Homo sapiens: one gene and its partners. The protein of the gene in region 2 interacts with the protein of the main gene of each other region in a biochemical or structural test. Each region holds a gene or a part of one and is shown on either strand. Other genes may lie near its edges.

Region 1 (4,237 bases), on a different chromosome or scaffold from region 2:
AGCTTGCAGTGAGTCGAGATCGCGCCATTGCACTCCAACCTGGGCAACAGAACGAGACTCCGTCTCAAAAAAAAAAAAAAAAATTAGCCAGGGGTGGTGGCATGTGCCTATAGTCCTAGCTACTCAGGTGGCTGAGGCAGGAGACTTGCTTAAGCCTCGGCAGTTGAGACTGCAGTGAGCCATGATCAGGCCACTGCACTGTAGTCTGGATGACAGAGCAAGACCCTGTCTCAACAACAACAACCAAAATCTGTTTGGGCCTCGCAAGGTTAGAGAAAAAAAATTAAAAAATAAAATAAAATAAAATATTTTCCTGTAGTCTCAGCTACTTGGGAGGCTGAGGCAGGAGGATCACTTGAGCTAAGGAGTTTCAGGCCAGCCTGGGCAACATAGAGAGAACTTGTCTCTATAAAAAGTTAACTGATTACTTTTTAAAACAAAGAGGTTTTTTTTCAGCCTTATTGAGGTATAATAGACATATACAAAACCATGCAAATTTTAAGCGTACAATCTGATGAGTTTTCACACCTGTGAAGCCACTATTACAGTTAAGATACTGAATTTATCCACAGCTCCAAAAAATGTCTTCCTGCCTGAGGTGGTGGCTCACGCCTGTAATCCCAGCATTTGGGAGGCTGAGGCGGGAGGATCTCATGAAGCCAGGAGTTTGAGACCAGCCTAGACAACATAGCGAGACCCCTTATCTACAAATAAAATTTAAAAAATTAACCAGGCATGGTGGCTCCTGTCTGCGGTCTCAGCTACTCTGGAGGCTGAGGTTGGAGGATCAGAGTTGGAGGCTGCAGTGAGCTATGAAAGCGCCACTGCACTCCAGTCTGGACAACAGAGCCAGATGCTGTCTCGACAAAACAAACACTGAAAAAAACTTTCCTGGAGCACTTCATTCATCCCTCCCTCCCGCGCCTGCCTACCCCTGGATTTTTTTTCCCTGAGCATAATTCTCATGAAGATTCGTCTATGTTGTTGCGTGTATTCCAGCCCTATTTTGCACATGAGGAAACTGAGGCACAGAGAGGCGTGGCTTGCCCCGGAGGTCACACTAGTCGATTTGGTCCCAGGCCAGGGCGGGTTCTGGGTCGGCAGCCCGCGCAGGTGCACTCGGGAGGCGGGGCGGGCGCTGCAGGTGCGCAGTCAGTCTCACCTGGGCGCCTGCCAGGAGGTCAGTCCTGGGCCCTGGGGGGCAGGACTAGGGGCGGGGCCAGGGGCAGGGGTTCCCCAGCTCTGCTGCCTCCGATAAGGGCCTGAAGGGGCTGTCGCGCTCCTGGCGGTGTGATAAGGAGGGCGGGGGGAGGCCGCGGGAAGGCGTCGGGGTTTGAGGTCCCCGCCTGGCGACCCGGGATCGGGGCAGGAAAGGCGGCTGGGCGGGGAGAGGGCGGGGCGGGGCGTCTGGCTTGGCCACGCCCACCGTCATCCGGGGTCCTGGCCCGCTAAGATGGCGATGGCTGCGGTAGCAGCGGCGGCGGCTGTTGCCTGGCCCGGTACCCTGGGGACGGGGGCCGAGTAGCGCCTTCCCCGGGCCCCGTGAACCGGCTGCGGGTCGCCCTTGGGGGGCAGCGGCCGCAGCCCCCCACCTGGGCCCTCGGTCCGCCCTCCCGGCGCGTCCATGAACTCAGTGTCGCCGGCCGCCGCGCAGTACCGGAGCAGCAGCCCGGAGGACGCGCGCCGCCGGCCCGAGGCCCGCAGGCCGCGGGGTCCCAGAGGCCCAGACCCCAACGGCCTGGGGCCTTCCGGAGCCAGCGGCCCCGCTCTTGGCTCTCCCGGGGCTGGCCCGAGTGAGCCGGACGAAGTGGACAAGTTCAAGGCCAAGTTCCTGACAGCCTGGAACAACGTCAAGTACGGTGAGGAGGGGGCCCGGAGATCGTGGGGGTGTCGGGGGCCGTTGAGGAAAACCAGACCCCGGTCCTGCCAGTTATCCCACCCTTGTTCCCGTCCTGAGTCACCTGTGGGTCCCCTCCCTGCCCGGCCCAGGGTGGACCTGTGGCAGGTCCAATAGTGTTTTCAAGCCCCGCCCATTCCCCTGTGTGACCTTGGGCAAGATCCTTTGCTTCCTGGCGCCTCCGTTTTTGCCCCTCTCTGTAAAATGGGTACAATAATCAGAACTACCTTCCTTCATCCTGAATTGATGGTGGACACTCCTGTAGCTGTCACTGGGGGCCCCACCTCCGACGGAATCCCCGGAGCCACCCCGGAGATAGGAACTAGGATCGTGCCCATTTCACAGATGGGGGAATGGAAGCGCTGTTGCTGTCATGCAAGTGCTTCATCTCGCTGGGCGCTGCCCCTACGTCTCCCCAGGTTGGGTGGTTAAAAGCCGGACCAGCTTTAGCAAGATCTCCAGCATCCACCTCTGTGGCCGCCGCTACCGTTTCGAGGGCGAGGGTGAGCTGGTGGTTGGGACCAGGGCTGGGGGAGGCCTCTCCACGCCCGCCGGAGTGTCCCTGGTGGCAGCTGACAGACCCGCTCTTGTAGGTGACATACAGCGTTTCCAGCGGGACTTTGTGTCCCGCCTGTGGCTCACATACCGCCGGGACTTCCCGCCCCTTCCTGGGGGCTGCCTGACCTCGGACTGTGGCTGGGGGTGCATGTTACGCAGCGGCCAGATGATGCTGGCACAGGGCCTTCTGCTGCATTTCCTGCCCAGAGGTGAGCCATAGGGGGGAAGGGGTGCACTAGGAGTACAGGGTCAACTGCCATATCAGCAGTATTAGAATTACTTACCAACTAAGAGTTCAAAGTCACGTTAGAATTGTGTGTCAAGTAAGTTTTGGAGAGATGAGAGTTGTTTATAAGAGTTTCAGCCGGGGTTGGAAACGGTGGCTCATGCCTGTAATCCTAGCACTTTGGGAGGCTGAGGCGGATGGATCCCTTGCGGTCAGGAGTTCAAGACCAGCCTGGCCAATATGATGAAACCCCATCTCTACTAAAAATACAAAAATTAGCCGGTTGTGGTGGCACACGCCTGTAATCCCAGCTACTCCCGAGGCTGAGGTGGGAGAATCTCTTGAACCCAGGAGGCGGAGGTTACAGCAAGCCAAGATCGCACCACTGCACTCCAGCCTGGGCAACAGAGGGAGACTCTGTGTCAAAAATAAAAATAAAAAAAAGTTTCACCAGGCACGGTGGCTCATGCCTGTAATCCCAGCACTTTGGGAGGCTGAGGCTGGTGGATCATGAGGTCAGGAGTTCAAGACCAGCCTGGCCAAGATGGTGAAACCCCATCTCTACTAAAAATACAAAAATTAGCTGGGTGTGGTGGCAGGCACCTGTAATTTGGCAAGGTAAAGCAGAGAATTGCTTGAACCGGGGAGGCGGAGGTTGCAGTGAGCCGAGATCCGTGCCACTGCACTCCAGCCTGGGTGGCAGAGCGAGACTCAGTCTCAAAAAAAAAAAAAGAGTTTTGGCTGGGCACTGTGCTGCATGCTTGTAATCCCAGCTACCTGGGAGGCTGAGGTGGGAAGATTGCTCGTGCCCAGGTGTTCAAGTCTGCAGTGAACTATGATCCTGCCACTGCACTCCAACCCGAGTGACAGAATGAGACTCCAACAATAACAGGTCGAGTGTGGTGGCTCATGCCTGTAATCCCAGCACATTAGGAGGCTGAGGCAGGAGGATCGCTTGAGCATAGGCATTCGACACCAGCCTAGGCCACATGACAAGGCTCCTGTCTCTACAAAAAAATTTTAAAAATTAGCTGAGTGTGGTGGCATGTGCCTGTGATCCCAACTACTCAGGAGGCTGAGGCGGGAGAATCTGTTGAGCTCAGGATTTAGAGGCTGTAGTGAGACGTGATTGTGCCACTGCACTCCAGTCTGGATGACAGTGAGATCCTGTCTTTATTTATTTATTTTATTTATTATTATTATTATTTTTTTTTTTGAGACTGAGTCTTCCTCTATCATCCTGGCTGAAGTGCAGTGGAGAGATCTTGGCTCACTGCAACCTCTGCCTCCCAGGTTCAAGCGATTCTCCTGCCTCAGCCTCCTGAGTAGCTGGGATTACAGGTGCCCGCCACCACGCTTGTCTACTTTTTGTATATTTTTTTTTTTATCAGAGAAGGGGTTTCACCATGTTGGCCAGGCTGGTCTCGAACTCCAGGCCTCAAGTGATCCACCTGCCTTGGTCTCCCAAAGTGCTGAGATTACAGGCATGAGCCACCGCGTCTGGCTGAGATCCTGTCTTTAAGTAACAAAAAATAAATAAATAAATAAGGATAAGT
Region 2 (2,626 bases):
GTAATATATTTTCATTACAGAAATATTGGAAGAAATTTAAAACCACCCACAACCCCACTTTCCTATATTCCTTTTCTAAGCATATGAAGTAAAAAGACAGCAAATTCCTCTGTCAAAATCCCAGCGCCCAGAGGAGGCCATCAGTAAACATCAACGGCTTGTTGTATATCCTCTTAGGTTGTTCTTCCCATTAGACACTTATCTTGTGGAAAAAGTTTCAAATTCACACATATGGTCATATTTAAGGCCTGAGATCTATGCAAACAAAGTATCTTCCTGGCATTGTGGTCATTTCAGGGTCAGGAACTTCTGCGAGGACTTGGGAAGCATAAGCGATCTGTCTGCCCTGATCTAACTGCCACCACCTCAAAAAACTAGGCTAGGGTTCTGGTGCTTCCTCTTTGACTCTTCCAAATCAAGCTTCTGATTAAAAACATTTTAACTTCCAATTAGTGGCACAACATCAAAAACAACAGCAACAAAAAACTCAAAGACATTGGTAATTTTAAGTTTGAATGTATATTTTGAAATAAAAATGGAAAATAACAAATTTGTACAAAATTGTCACATAGAAACACACTTTAAGATACCATTACATGCTATGTGTATTTACAAAAGTTACAGGTCTAGTAAGAAAAAAGAAACTGTCATTGACAAATGCGAGCTCATTTTTTGAGCAACAAGAAATCTCCCGTGAAATGTCATACTGACAGCCAGTGAGACTTGGTGCAGTGACGGCTCCGCACCTGCTGAGGCCTGGAGCCTGCCTCCCGGGCTGAGGGCTCAGCTCTGGCCTCCGGCTGGATGCCGTCTAGAGTCCTATGTGCTCATAGGTCTTTTTCTTTCAGTAAACAGTATAAAACATTACTATTTTCCTTTGATTGTAAACTTCAACAGAAAATAACATACTTAAGAATTTTGCTACAAAGAGTACTATGATTTTTATTGCCTCACCACCTTTAGAACATTTCCACTTCACAAGTTTCTGATTTGCTTCACTTTCTTACTTGGCGATGGCGCCCTGGCAGCATCATCCACACATACCAGTGCGTATGGAGAAATGGGCTGTAGGCCCTTCCTGCGTGGTCCATGGCTCTGCCTTCATGGAACAGGCTGAGTCATGTCTCTGCTCAGGCTCAAACCATCTACTCTCAAGTTACAGGCAGCTCAGCCCATTCATTTATTGCTTTCCTTATATTCCACTGTTTATTATTTAAGTTGTATTTTCATATGTTCCTATAGAATTTATTCACATTACCTGGCTAATAATCAACAGTTTGGGGTTTTTATATAATAGCTCTTCAGATATATTGCTGGTATATGAAGCTCAACTGATATGCATAGGGACAAATCAGAAGATATTTATGCTGGTAGATCCAGGGGCATTGTAGCACCTTACAGTTAAAACTCCACCCCTCTATGAATGTTAAGTTTTAGCCTTAAAAGTCAAGTTAGTTTGCTCACACTTTCTCTCACATAAAATATTAGTTTCTTTCTCAATATTAAACATTATTATTATTTTTTTACAACAAAAGTGTTCAGGACAAACATCACAAAACCATAATCCCAGATAAATGGTCTAAAAATGCAGTTAAGTCATCCGTGTATATCAATTCTAAAATAAAGGTTTGAGCCTTTGACCATGCCCACAGATGCCTAAGTTCTTCCACATCATCATTTCTACAGTTTGACAAAACTAGAATACACAGTCTTAAGTGGGGGGAATATCATAAAAATTCATTACTTCAATGTTTAACTTTTTCACAATTACTTGAAAATTCATAGCACAGCATCACTGTAACTTGCTAATCATGAAAGCTGTAAATTAACAATCATTGCCTCTCATAATGACTGCACCAGTATCCATTTTTATTTATTCCTAATTTAATTCAATTGCAACTACCTGACTGGAAGTTTGAGGTAGCTTCATAGTGGTTCTATTTGATGGAAGGAGTATGTCTTAAAGTACCCTCTGCAGCATGAGAGTAGGTCAAAATGAGAGGGAAATACAGTACCAAATATACCATCTTCTCACTTGGCATACAAACTAAAAAAAACCACCAACCAACCATTTCTTTAGTGATAAAAATAGAGTTCTTTTGTGAGCATGGAAACAATACATGGAATCTGTTTCTTTGCATGAAAAGTAGCGTCAAAGGAAAAGGACTCAAATTCTGTTGCCACCTTTCGGTTAACCCGGGTAAGAATGTGCATAAATTCAAGCTTGTCGGCATACTGTTTCAGCATGGCACAAAGCGACTGGATGAACCAGGAGCCATCCTTTGAATTTCGCCAAGAATAATAACCTAAAAGGCAAAATACAAGCAAAATACCATGGATAGCTGATTTTAGTTGATTCTATAAATTATTATGTAGTCATAAAGGCAAAAATAAGCATAAACTTACATAAGTCTTATTAGTCATACAAATAAAAAAAAAAAGACACCTTTGGTTTCAGAAGAAATGATGCTGAAGGACGAATGTGTGCTATGCGTACACCCCCTGCTTTCAGCAAAGCTGGCCGGGGACCAGCTTCACGAACACTGAATTATTGAAAGTTTTACTTTCTGGACTCCCCTTTCAATAGGCAAGAAGAGCAAACACGCAGAAGGTAAGATGCAAAAGT
Region 3 (3,500 bases), on a different chromosome or scaffold from region 2:
CATATTTGTTCTTCAGAGACACGGATGAGCTGGGACAGAAAATAGGGGAAGACAACAGGCCAAGGCCACTCTGTGTTACTTTTCCTGAAGTCAGAATCAGTTGAGGCACACACTGGGGCCTGCAGGCATCGAGTGAGCCGCGTGGAGGAACATGTTGTGTCTGCCGTTTTTGAATACCCAGGGTGGGAGCTTGGCCATCTGCATCCCCACTTCCCATAGCCCAGGCAGAGGGACAGAGAAATGGAGTGGGGAGCACAGAGCAGGCTCCAACAAGACAAATTCCCTGCTGCCAAACCACCATGATCCACTCTGACTTTGGTCACAAACTCTGCTAAAAACAATTCTCTACGTTCACTGTTCCCAAGGGTCATTCTAAACAGTGGTGGCCACCACCCCTTAGAAGCAAGAGAAAAAGAAAAAAGGCAAATAAATGCAGAAGGCAGCCAGAGCCTCCCAGATGCCCCTGCTCAGGACCCTTCCCCGCAGCTTGGCAGTGGCCACTCAGGGCTTGGCCACAGGCAGGGCTTGGCTCAGTATCCTGTCAGGGGCAAGAGCCAAGCTGTCTGGGAGGGTCGGGGGATGCAGGAAGGATGTGTGGGAATCACCAGGCCATTGCTGCATTTGGGGTGACAGGCTGAGTCTGCCAAGCCGGAGGGAGCCCTGAGGCCTCATCCTCACTGGGGGTCCTATTCCTGGAAGAGTGCTGAATGTCAACTCCCAGGCCTCCTCTTCCAGCAATAAGGAAGCCATGTCTGAGAGGGGAAGGGCAAGATGTGCCCTCAGCCTCACTCAATGAGCTCCACGTAGTTGGCAGGGAACATGCCAAAATGGCCATCCGGCCCATAGCCACGCCACCAGCCTTCGTCGATCACCTCGATGCCCGTGATGAGGTTCTCGGGGTCAAAGGAGATCTCTGTGTCGTCGGCTGCAAAGAGGATGAGCCCAGATGCATATCAGGGGCTCCCTCCCACATCCCACCTGCTCGGGCAGCCCACGGCAGCCCCACACTGCTGCAGCACACCTCGCTGCAGCTCTGGTTCCTCCTCAGAAATATCCCTGCCACCCTGCTAAGCCTTGGCCAACACTGCACCCTGTCCCAATGCGGCTCCAGTGACCACACCCCCAGGGCATACCCTCCTACAGAGCATTCCCAAAAAAGGCTAGAGTAGACACCAGCCTGCTCCGTAGGGGGCCTCCACCCCATTCTCCAAGGCCTCCACCCAGGGACGCCTGGTGAACCAGCATCCAGGCCTGGCCCACCTCCCTGCTCAGAGTCCATGTTCTGTGACAAGGGTGGCAACTGGGATTCACATCAGCGGCCAGCAAATAGCTAATGAGGAACATGTAGGGAGGCCTGGGCTGTGCAGAACACTCTAGTGCCACAGTCACCCCCACTCCAGAGGTGCTTCTACCCCTAAACGCACCGCCCACCCTCCTGTCTTCTCTTCCTGATACCCCCTGGTGCCATCTTCCCATAAAACCCCAGACCCTCTTGTCTCCTAACCTCAGGACCCTGTGGTCTGTGCCAGCCAGGCCAGGGCACCTTACCTGCCTGGTAGTCGTACAGGGCACGGGCACAGAGCCCTTGCCCACTGAGCCCCTGGCCCTGAATGTGGTGGTCAATGTGCTCAGAGCCAGCACCTTGCTGCTGCACCTGCCCAGGGATGACAAAGGTGTTACCCCAGACTCAGCCCTTACACACAATCGCTGCTCTGCCCCACATGGCTCAGGTCAAGCTGGGAGTACGCAGAGGGCAAGCAGTCTACAGGCTCGGGGGCTGGGCTGCTGCTGTCCCCGCCCTACCAGAGTACAGAAGCCACAGGACAGTGCATAAATCCCTCAGCCATAGGCTGCAAGGTCCTCTTCCCACCCAGCACCTCCTATAGAGTGGGGCGTGCCCTGACAATTTATAACACAGGGCTGCTCCAAAAATGCATGTGCTTTAAAACCTGTTGCATGCCCCCAGAAAACTCAGGCGGCCCGTGATAAGTGTTCCTGAGTATGCAGCCCCTTCCTGGCCCCAGCCCCAGTGTAGGAACCCACCAGTGGGGGCTGCTCGTAGAAGGTCTCCTGCTCTGGAGGTTCCTCATACACAGCCTCCTCTTCTGCCTGCACCAGACATGGAGGAGTGCTGGGCGCCGGCTCCTCAGCAGGGAGATCTGCACCAGGGAACACAGCAGGTTCTCACTCCCACACATCCCCCTTCTCCACTGCTGTCCCCCAGGGTCCCCATGGGGTGACAAGCGCCTTGCCTGCCCTGGGCCTTGAGATGGCAGCAGCTGGCTCTCTGCCAAAGTGGGTCTCTGGTTGGGTGAGCTGCTTCTGCAGGAAGGGGCTCCTCAGCTTGCCTGCAAACCCGGGTAAATATATACATCACTTCAGAAACACCACCACACACCCACGCACCCCACAGCACCCTCCACCCTGGTGTGCTCGAGGCAGTCTCATGGGGCTTGCTCTTGCTAGTGCAGGAACAGAGGCCCCAGGGCCATGTGCTATGTGGTGACGTGGTAGACAGCGCAGCCCAATATCTTTTGGAGGCCAAACTGGTGACCAGTGTGGTCACTGATGAGGTCAATGGCCCCAGGTGTCCCTTCTCCTCACTCACTCACCCGTCACCGATATATCTGTCACTAGCCTTGGGGGAGCCCACATAGGACCCCAGGCTCCCCCTCAGCCTGCTGCTGCCTCATGGCCAGGCCCAAAGGGAGAGCTCACCAGGCTGAGGACTGGAGATGGAGGTGGTGGACATGGCCCTCTCCTTCTGCTTGAAAATCTCCCTCGGGTGCACGGCAGACTCCTGGAGGGAAGCACATGTTGACCCCTGCAGTGGGCAAAACCTTCACCACCTCTCCCCAGATCACAGCCCCTCCAGCTGTCGGCCCAGTAGCCCCTCAAAGGTGAGTGTGGGGCCAGGAGGCAAAACATGTTCTCAGGAGAGAAGTCATTTAAAAATAAAAAGTAACGTTAAAAAAGGAAGTAAAACACAGAAGCCAAGGGGCTCCCAGGGCCTCCCCCAGGACCAGGTGTGGTCCAAGCCCGACGCTTCCGCCTTTGGCTTTCCTCTCTACTGCCACCTCTTGAGGTGCCCAGATTCCAACCTGCCCCAGCTGACTGCAGGGCAGCCTCTGCCCAGGTCTGGGCTGGGCCCTCAATCCGAGATCAGGGACTTCTGCGTGTGGCCAGGACAGGTCCAAACAAGTAGAGCACCCCCATCTTACCTGCTCATTTCGGTTCCTTGAAACCACTTCTTGCTGCTGCTCCCACGTCCTGCTGGGAAGGGCCGGGTGGGGCACAGCTGAGGCACAGTCACAGCTTCTCATGCCACACCCCTTAGTCCTCCTCGCCTCCATGGGATGGAGCAGGTGCCCAGCAATGCCTCAGGGTGGGTCCCCCAGGCCAGCCTCCACCTCTGGCTCACCTCTGGGGGCTGGCCTCGCCACCCTGCTCCTGATAGCGCTGCTCCCGGCGTGCAGCCTCACGCAGCTCACGCTCCCGGC
Region 4 (3,500 bases), about 110 Mb from region 2:
AAGAACAAAGCTGGAAAAATCACACTACCCCACTTCAAACTATACTACAAAGCTACACTAACCAAAACAGCCTATTACAGACATGGAGCAATGGAACAGGATAGAGAACCCAAAACTAAAGCCACACACCTACAACCATCTGATCTTTGACAAAATTGACAGTAACAAGCAATGGAGAAAGGACTACCTATCCAATAAATGGTGCTGGGATAACTGGATAGCCTTATGCAGAAGAATGAAACTGGGCCCTTACCTTTTACCATATACAAAAATTAACTCAAGATGGATTAAAGACATAAATATAAGACCTAAAACTATAAAAAGCCGAGAAGAGGCTGGGCATGGTGGCTTACGCCTGTAATCCCAGCACTTTGGGAGGTCAAGGTGGGAGGATCACGAGGTCAGGAGATCGAGACCATCCTGGCCAACATGGTGAAACCCTGTCTCTACTAAAAATACAAAAATTATCTGGGTGTGGTGGTGTGCATCTGTAGTCCCAGCTACTTGGGAGGCTGAAGCAGGAGAATCGCTTGAATCCGGGAGGCAGAGGTTGCAGTGAGCCAATCGCACCATTGCACTCACTCCAGCCTGGGTGACAGGGCCAGACTCCTACTCAAAAAAAAAAAAAAAAAAAAAAAAAATCCTCGAAGAAAATCTAGGAGATATCATCCTGGACATTGGCCTTGGCAAAGAATTTATGACTAAGTGCCCAAAAGCAATTGTGACAAAAACAAAAATTGACAAGTGGGACCTAATTATACTAAAGAGCTTCTGCACAGCAAAAGAAACTATCAACAGAGTAAACAAACAACTTATAACCTGGGAGAAAACATCTGCAAACCATGCATCTGACAAAGGTCTAATATTCAGAATCTGTAAGGAACTTAATTCAACAGGCAAAAACCAAAAACTCTTAAAAAATGGGCAAAGGACATGAACAGACACTTCTCCAAACAATACATATACATAGGCAAGAAATATATGGAAAAATGTTCCACACCACTAAATCATCTGACAAATGCAAGTCAAAACCACAGTGAAATACCATCTCCCACCAGTCAGAATGACTATTATTAAAAAGACAAAACAAACAAACAAAAAACAGATGTTAGAGAGGTTATAGAGAAAAGGGAATGCTATATACTGTTGGTGGGAATGTAATTTTAGTTCAGTCACTGTAGAGAGCAGTTGGGATATCTCTCAAAGAACTTAAAACAGAACTACCATTCGACCCAGCAGTCTCACTACTGTATTTTTTCAACAAATATTTGTCATGCAGCTAATACAGACTTAATTTATTTTTTTTAATTTTTTTTTTGAGACAGAGTCTCACTGTGTTGCCCAGGCTGGACTGCAGTGGCGTGATCTCGGCTCACTGCAACCTCTGCCTCCTGGGTTCAAGCTATTCTCCTGCCTCAGCCTCCCAAGTAGCTGGGACTACAGGTGCCCGCCACCACGCCCGGCTAATTTTTGTATTTGTAGTAGAGACGGGGTTTCACCATATTGGCCAGGCTGGTCTCGAACTCCTGACCTTGTAATCTGCCCGCCTCGGCCTCCCAAAGTGCTAAGATTATAGGCATGAGCCACCGCACCCGGCCCTACAGACGTGATTTTATGATATAACCTTACCTTCATGAAGCTTAAAACATTCCTAAAACAGAACTCCCCCAACTATGACTTTTTTTTTTTTTTTTTTTTTTAGATGGAATCTCGCTCTGTCGCCAGGCTGGAGTGCAGTGGCGCGATCTTGGCTCACTGCAACCTCCAACTCCCTGGTTCAAGTGATTCTCCTGCCTCAGCTTCCCAAGTAGCTGGGATTACAGGCACAGGTGCCACCATGCCCAGCTAATTTTTGTATTTTTAGTAGAGACGGGGTTTCACCATGTTGGCCAGGATGGTCTTGATCTCCTCACCTCGTGATCTGCCCGCCTCAGCCTCCCAAAGTGCTGGGATTACAGGCTTGAGCCACTGCGTCCAGTAACTATGACTATTTATTGTAAGACTAAAATAATCCATGCTAATAGTCATTTCAATTATAATGTTTTTAATGAAATAAGGGAAAATAAAGAAAAATAAATCATTCTATCAAAAAGCCATATGCACTTGCATATTCACTGGAGCACTATTCACAACTGCAAAGATGTGGAGTCAACCTAGGTGTCCATCAATAGTGGACTGGATAAAGAAAATGCAGTACATATATGCCATGGAATACTATGTCGACATGAAAAAGAATAAAATCATGCCCTTTGCAGCAACATAGATGCAGCTGGTAGCCATTATCCTAAGCGAATTAATATAGGAACAGAAAACCAAATACTGCATTTCCTCACTTACAAGTGGGAGCTAAACAATGAGTAAGCACGGACCTAAAGATGGGAGCAGTCAACACTGGGGACAACAACGGGGGGAAGGTGGGAGAGGGGGCGAGAGTTAAGAAACTACCCATCAGGTACCATCCTCACTACCTGGGTGATGGTTATACATCAAACCTTAGCAACAGGCAATTTACCCATGTAACAACTTGCACATGTAACCTTCTAAAACTTTAAAGTTATGGGGAAAAAATATTGTTTAGAGAAATGTTTATTTTCATAAACACATTTGCTTATGAAACAATACTAATTTACGTTTAATCGTTTATAAAAATATAAAAGCAAAAAAATTAAAGGACACTAGTGTAATACAGCTTGCAGTATTTTTTCACAATTCTTTTTTTTAAGTATTCAGTAACTACTTAACTGACAGGAAAAAATAAAGAACAGGAATGGCAATTAAAATGCTAACTCTAATCAATCAATCATTTATCCAACAAATATTTGTCAAGCACCTAATATTGATTTAATTTTATGATATAATCTTACCTTGAAATTTAAAACATAGTTGTACCTTCCTAAAACAGAATTTCCCTAACTGTAAGACAAATAATTCATGCTAATAGTCAATTCACTTATGTTTTAGATGAAATAAAAATATTATTGTTTTAGATTACAAAAGTCATTTTTTTTTTTTTTTGAGACGGAGTCTCACTCCATTGCCCAGGCTAGAGTGCAGTGGTGCGATCTTGGCTCATTGTAACCTCCACCTCGTGGGTTCAAGTGATTCTCCTGCCTCAGCCTCCCTAGTAGCTGGGATTACAGGCACCTGCCACCATGTCCAGCTAATTTTTGTATTTTTAGCAGAGACAGGGTTTCGTCATGTTGGCCAGGCTGGTCTCAAACTCCTGACCTCAGGTGATCCACCCGCCTCAGCCTACCAAAGTGCTGGGATTACAGGCGTGAGCCACCAGGCCTGGCCCAGAAATTTGTTTTAAATTTAACTCTGTTACTGAGAAGACTTTATTAAAACAGCAAAAGCAAATCTTATCTTCATATGACCTAAATTATTATAATCTATAAAAAGAGATGTGGGAACATTAAAAAATCAAACACAAGTCTCTTTGTAGACAAATCCAATGAATCCATTTCCATTATAGTTACCTTAAGTCAGCCAAGTAATAT

Evidence for each region.
Region 1: of the proteins of CASP3 (region 2) and ATG4D, one has a biochemical effect on the other in vitro, tested with the Homo sapiens proteins (one study listed by BioGRID).
Region 3: of the proteins of CASP3 (region 2) and DBNL, one has a biochemical effect on the other in vitro, tested with the Homo sapiens proteins (one study listed by BioGRID).
Region 4: of the proteins of CASP3 (region 2) and USO1, one has a biochemical effect on the other in vitro, tested with the Homo sapiens proteins (one study listed by BioGRID).

The regions. Positions count from the first base shown.
Region 1 is NC_000019.10:10,542,467-10,546,703, forward strand, and holds the start of ATG4D (cysteine protease ATG4D isoform 1 precursor), read left to right. Parts: upstream 1-1,437; 5' UTR 1,438-1,624; coding exon 1,625-1,859; intron 1,860-2,242; exon of another isoform or gene 2,243-2,270; coding exon of another isoform or gene 2,271-2,316; coding exon 2,317-2,400; intron 2,401-2,490; coding exon 2,491-2,664; intron 2,665-4,237.
Region 2 is NC_000004.12:184,627,196-184,629,821, forward strand, and holds the end of CASP3 (caspase-3 isoform a preproprotein), read right to left. Parts: intron 2,307-2,626; coding exon 2,077-2,306; 3' UTR 501-2,076; downstream 1-500. UniProt on the Homo sapiens protein: Thiol protease that acts as a major effector caspase involved in the execution phase of apoptosis. Following cleavage and activation by initiator caspases (CASP8, CASP9 and/or CASP10), mediates execution of apoptosis by catalyzing cleavage of many proteins.
Region 3 is NC_000007.14:44,058,202-44,061,701, reverse strand, and holds part of DBNL (drebrin-like protein), read right to left. Parts: coding exon 3,422-3,500; intron 3,274-3,421; coding exon of another isoform or gene 3,271-3,273; coding exon 3,222-3,270; intron 2,825-3,221; coding exon of another isoform or gene 2,801-2,824; coding exon 2,719-2,800; intron 2,349-2,718; coding exon 2,253-2,348; intron 2,160-2,252; coding exon 2,044-2,159; intron 1,655-2,043; coding exon 1,549-1,654; intron 926-1,548; coding exon 786-925; 3' UTR 1-785. UniProt on the Homo sapiens protein: Adapter protein that binds F-actin and DNM1, and thereby plays a role in receptor-mediated endocytosis.
Region 4 is NC_000004.12:75,731,077-75,734,576, reverse strand, and holds part of USO1 (general vesicular transport factor p115), read right to left. Parts: intron 1-3,500. UniProt on the Homo sapiens protein: General vesicular transport factor required for intercisternal transport in the Golgi stack; it is required for transcytotic fusion and/or subsequent binding of the vesicles to the target membrane.